Linked DNA regions of Homo sapiens: region 1 is linked to region 2. The links come from fine-mapping of genetic effects on gene expression. A gene starts in region 2. The other region holds a variant in brackets. All regions are shown on one strand. Distances are from middle to middle.

What was found. PIP is the estimated chance that this variant, and not a neighbour inherited with it, causes the effect.
Region 1: its variant is fine-mapped to the expression of PHYKPL in left ventricle (GTEx, PIP above 0.99).

What each region holds. Positions count from the first base shown.
Region 1 is chr5:178,196,076-178,198,985 of GRCh38, reverse strand. No RefSeq gene overlaps it. Among named protein-coding and RNA genes, the nearest start is that of HNRNPAB, 7.0 kb to the left of the region's middle. The variant G/T (reference allele first, on the strand shown) is at 1,645.
Region 2 is chr5:178,231,011-178,233,920 of GRCh38, reverse strand. It overlaps PHYKPL (5-phosphohydroxy-L-lysine phospho-lyase), which reads left to right and starts at 1,119. Exons shown (of 13, transcript NM_153373.4): 1 at 1,119-1,429; 2 at 2,398-2,516. The coding sequence starts at 1,371. RefSeq lists silencers at 885-1,294, 1,375-1,694 and an enhancer at 957-1,495.

The DNA.
Region 1 (2,910 bases), 35 kb after region 2:
ACTTCCAGCCTCAAGAACTGTGAGAGAATACAGCTGGGTTGCTGTAAGCCACCGGGTTGCGGCACTTGATCACAGCAGCCCCAGAAACCAAACACAACATCCAACAGACTTCCTCCTCCTCCTATGGGAAGTGTTGTGTCATACCCCGAGGAAGGGTGCCCCTCAGAACATGGGCCACACTGTTGACATTGACTGTGAGCGCCCTGAGACCCTGCATCGGGTCTGTCTCCTCCACCCTGACTCCTACGGTGGGCACGCCAGTGCCTGCAGAATGAATACGAGATCTTTTTTTTTTTTTTTTTTTTTGAGACAGAGTCTCGCTCTGTTGCCCAGGCTGGAGTGCAGTGGCATGATCTCAGCTCACTGCAACCTCTGCCCCCTGGGTTCAAGCAATTCTCATGCCTCAGTCTCCCGAGTAGCTGGGATTGCAGGTGTGCGCCACCACACCTGGCTAATTTTGTACTTTTAGTAGAGACAGGGTTTCACTGTGTTGGCCAGGCTGCTCGCAAACTCCTGACCTCTGGAGTTCGGCCTCCCAAAGTGCTGGGATTACAGGCGTAAGCCACTTCGCCCAGCCCCAAATCTCATCCTGAATTGTAATCCCCATAATCCCCATGTGTCATTGGAGGGACCTGGTGGGAGGTAATCGAATCGTGGGGGCGGTTTCCCCCATGCTGTTCTAGTGATAGTGAGTACTCACGAGATCTGATGGTTTTATAAGCATCTGGCATTTCCCCTGCTGGCACTCATTCTCTCTCCTGCTGCCCTGTGAAGAGGTGCCTTCCGCCATGATTGTAAGTTTCCTGAGGCCTCCCCACCATGCGGAACTGAGTCAATTAAACCTCTTTCCTTTATAAATTACCAAGTCTCAGGTATTTCCTTATAGCAATGTGAAAACAGACTAATACTGTTTCAAACCAGCACCTTGTGGACTAAAGTTGACTCTTGAACCTACTTGCTTGCCCTGTACAGTGCTTTGTTCTGTTTTTGTTTTTGAGATGAGGTCTCACTGTGTCGCCCAGGCTGGAGTGCAGTCACTATTCACCTGCGTGATTGCAGCTCAGTGTAGCCTCAAACTACTGGCCTCAAGTGATCCTCCCGCTTCAACCTCCCTAGCAGCTGAGACTAAAATTGCACACCACCTCACCCAGTCCTACACAGTGTTTGGCTCATTTGAAAAAATTGTTTGCCAACATTTATGGATTATGACATTTCTTTCATATATACATATACACACATACACATATATATGTGTGTGTATATATACGTATATATGTGTATATGTGTATATATGTGTATATATGTATATATATAATATATACATATATATGCGTATATATGTACACATATATACGTATATATATACATGTATATACATATATATACACACACACATATATATACACATATATGTATATTTTTTAGATGGAGTCTCACTGTGTCGCCCAGGCTGGAGTGCAGTGGCATGATCTTGGCTCACTACAACCTTCACCTCCTGGGTTCAAGCGATTCTTGTGCCTTAGCTTCCCAAGTAGCTGGGATTACAAGCATGCACCACCACGCTAATTTTTGTATTTCTAGTAGAGAAAGGGTTTCCTCATGTTGGCCAGGCAGATCTCGAACTCCTGACCTCGTGATCCACCC[G/T]CCTCAGCCTCCCAAAGTGCTAGGATTACAGGTGTGAGCCACCGCGCCCTGCCGGATGATGGCATTTCTACACAAGGTTATACGTCCAGTTACTTTTGAAAAATTGTCAGCTAAGGTCACACTGGGCCACAGTGTCCTGTGTCCAGAATCAGTGGGAGCTGAGTCACAGTGACCCCCAGCGGATGAGGCAGGCACTGTCCAGCTAAACCCAGCCCCCACCATGTTCTAATGTCTTCCTCCAGGGTCCCACTAAACCTATTGACATTGACCAAGAGCATCTGAGATGTGGATCCCTAAGCAGACCTCCATGAAGTTCAGCTTCTTCATCTTTTTTTACATTTTTTCTGAGACAGGGTCTTGCTCTGAGTGCAGTGATGTGATCACGGCTCGCCTCGACCTCCTGGGCTCAAGTGATCCTCCCGTCTCAGCCTCCCACTTAGCTGGGACTACAGGCATGCACCACCACACCCAGCTTATTTATTTATTTAGCTAGGGACAGGGTCTCCCTGTGTTGCCCAGGCTAGTCTCAAACTCCTGGGCTCAAGCCATCTGCCTGCCTTAACTTCCCAAAGGGCTGGGATTACAGGCATGAGCCACAGCTCCCGACCTACTTCATCTTAAAAAAAAAGAGAATGGCACCTGTCTCTCCACCATCCTGCAGGGCTATGGGAGGACGGCTGCTAAGGGTTTAGAACAGCGCCCGCTGTGAGAGCTGCTGTGACTGCTAACAGCAACAGTGGAAGCATCCAAGGGAACATTCCTTTGCCTGCTGACACCCCCAGGCCCCCAGCCACCCCGCAACAATATATCTCAAAATACATCTCAAGTCAAATCCTTGAAACAGACAAGTAAGAGATCTGGAGAGAGAATCTGCTGGCGGCCTCCCTAAAATCACACATTCTTGCCACAGCCACCCCACGCCCTGCTGAGTCTCAGAGGCAGCCTCTGTCCATCAGAAACCAATCAGAAATGGCTAGAGCCCTATACTGGAATCAGTCCTTAATGAAGTATGTGATTCACATACAAAACCCTAATCCTCCCAGTTTCCTGGAGAGCTCACAAAGCTGCACACAGTGGGCACAGCTCACACAGGGGCCCGGCCTCATCTGCAACATTATCCCCTGTGTAGTCTTTGAAACTTCAGACTCCCTGACCTCTGGGGCTGGACTCTCACTTTTATGAAGCATTCTAGGCACCAGTCATTGGGACAGGGACAGATTTTAGGACTCACTACTGCAGATTAGGTGGGGAGAAAGCCTATTAAAC
Region 2 (2,910 bases):
TAGGGAAGATGAAAAAGTCCTGTTGCATGGATGGTGGTGATGGCTGCACGACGATGTGAATGTACTTTTGCCACTGAATTGTATCCTTAAAAATGGTTAAAATGGTAAAATTTTGTTATGTATATTTTACACAATAAAGAAAAAAGAAACTCCAAATGTTCTTTAATAAATGCCTTAAGCGGCCGGGTGCGGTGGCTCACCCGGCCTGTAATCCCAGCACTCTGGGAGGCCGAGGCAGGCAGATCATCTGAGGTCAAGAGTTCAATAAATGCCTTATGCATCTTACAACTGTATTGGGAAGAGAAGAAGAAATCAGCAATGAGGGAGTGAAGCAGAGGCCTGGGAATCATGATGTGGACAGAAAGAAGGGACAATCAGGAGCCTCCCCTGCACCTGCTGCAGTCCCAGGCCCGTGTTCCAGGGTTCTTCAAGGCAGAAAGCCCCAGTGCCTCACCCCAGGAGGGGGCTTTTCTCTCATATCCCAGCCCCTTGGGAGGCTTTTTCTTCTCACTCCCTGGGCTGGGAGTCAAGAAGACCTCAGTAGGAGTCCAGCCTCTGCAGCCTTGCTGCGTGTCTGACAACAAAACCCTTTCCCTTTCTGGGCTTCAGGGTCACCGACATGTACCACAAGGAGGATTCCCAACCTCTCTTCTTGCCCAAACGCTGCATGATTCTCTCAGCGACGATACAGCTCGTCCGGTTCACCCTGCCTAGATTCTAGCAGGAACTATGGTGCCCTGAAGGTCAAGCCCATGGTGATCTCCTTGGTCAGCCCCAGAAGGGACCCTGGGCTCTCCTTCTGCTCTTCCTGCTGCCCCTTCATGGGGCTGGGAAAACCTAGGACCTGCTTCTCCCACCCTGAGGCCCCTACTGTGTACCAGGCCCGGGTAAGGTACCAGTCACATACTCGCACTTAGGCCTCACAGTTCATCCCATTTTATGCACAAGGCGACTCAAAGACTGAGTCTGGCCCAGAGAAGGCCTGCAGGAGCTCCGAGCCCCGCCTGGGCGCCGGGAGCAGGGGCGGGGTCGTCCGGGACCCTTTCCCGGAAGGGAGGCCGCAGGGGCCTGCGGGGCGGGGCCTGCGGGGCGAGGCCCGGGGCGCGTCCCGGAACCAGAGACGGGGCAGCGCTCGAGTTCCTGCGCGGGACTGCCAAGGCACGACCACGGGCCGGAAGGCTGCCAGGCCCAGTGGGCAAGCGAAGAAATGAACCACCGCAACGCGGGCGCTTCGGGGCGGGGCCGAGTGCGAACCTGAGCCCCAAATCCCGACCCAGGCAGGGGCGGGGCCCGGAGCGGGGCCTTGGAGGCCCAGCCCGCGCGGCGACGTCTCCGCGTGGCGTCACGGCACCGACTGACGGCCACCCACCATGGCCGCAGACCAGCGCCCGAAGGCCGACACGCTGGCCCTGAGGCAACGGCTCATCAGGTACCCGGGCGGGGGGCGGGCGGCGGGGGGCGCGGGGCTGCGCGGAGAGGCACGCGCACGCACGACGCACGCACGCACGCACTACGCACGCGCCTCCGGCTAGGAAGCCGCTGCTACCCATCCCGTCCGGCCGCTGCCCCGGCCCCGCTGGAGCTTCTAGGGCCCGAGGCGGGCGGCGCCGTTGGGCAGTCCCGGCGGGTGGTCTCCGGGGCCGCCTCCCCGACAGCGCCGTCTCCAGGCCGCCCAGTTCAGGAGACGGCCCCGCCCTCACCGCTGTTCGGCTGTGTCAGCCTCGCTTGGCAGCCTTTACTCCGGAGAAGACCTTCACCCTGGCGCCTGAGAGGACCTCACCCAGGGTGGCCCGTCAGCAGCACCTGGGCCTGGCTCGAGAGTGACCTGGGAGGGGGCTGAAAGGGCAGACAAGGGAGAGTCGGGGGAGTCGGTTCACAGGCAGCACACTTGACCTGTGAGGGGGCCCTCGGTGGGACGGTGGGTGAGGTCGCCTCCCACTGGAGCTTAGGGCTGGCACCCAGCGAGGGGCAGCAGGGCCACGTGGCTGGCAAGGAGCTGTTTAGGGCTGAGAGCCAGGCACCTAATGTTGGTGCCCTGGCCCATCCCATCGAAGACACGCGGCCTTATGGAGTCCCCATGGGACGGGGCAGCCACCTTTTCTCAGGATCCGGGAGACTGACGCGGACACATGCAGAAATGAGCAAGGAGGCCACAGAGGCTGAAAATGCTTTCAGAAACAATCCGAAGTTTCAGCGACTTGTTACCCCATCTGCTTCCTGCTTTGCAACCACCTGTGGAGTGGAGAGACAAGGCAGGGAAGCAGCACCTTGCCCTTCCAGCTCTCATTTCCCCCCCGCCACCAGAAACTGGGAAGGGGTGGGCGGGGGTCTGCGATGAGTAGACTTCACCCTTTCGGTCTTCAGACATGGCTGTCCACTCCTTGCCTGTCCCCACAGCTCTTCCTGCAGACTCTTTTTTCCCGAGGATCCTGTTAAGATTGTCCGGGCCCAAGGGCAGTACATGTACGATGAACAGGGGGCAGAATACATCGATTGCATCAGCAATGTGGCGCACGGTCAGTATCACACCTCAGGCTGGCAGGGCAGGAGAGGAAGGCAGTGCTGTGAACCTGGTCCCAAGGTGACCTGAGATTGCCGAGAGGTGTGGAGAACCTGGGTGGAGTTGAGGCACTGTCAGTATGCAGAGGAGGCTCAGCCTTCGCAATATAGCTGTGGAATTCTGCAATCTGGAGCTGTGCTAAACCAGGCAGGGGTCAGCAATCTAGGTCTGTGAGTCTAGTTCCACTTGGGACTGATGATGAGCTCACAAAGTGGCAGATGGCCCAGCTGTGACCAGCAACGTAGCACAGTGCTGGCCAAGTGCTGGGGTCATGGCAGTGCTTCAGCCCCATTGGCCATCTCAGGTGCTAGGCAAGGGAGCTGAAGTAGGAATTCAGTCATCTTGATGAG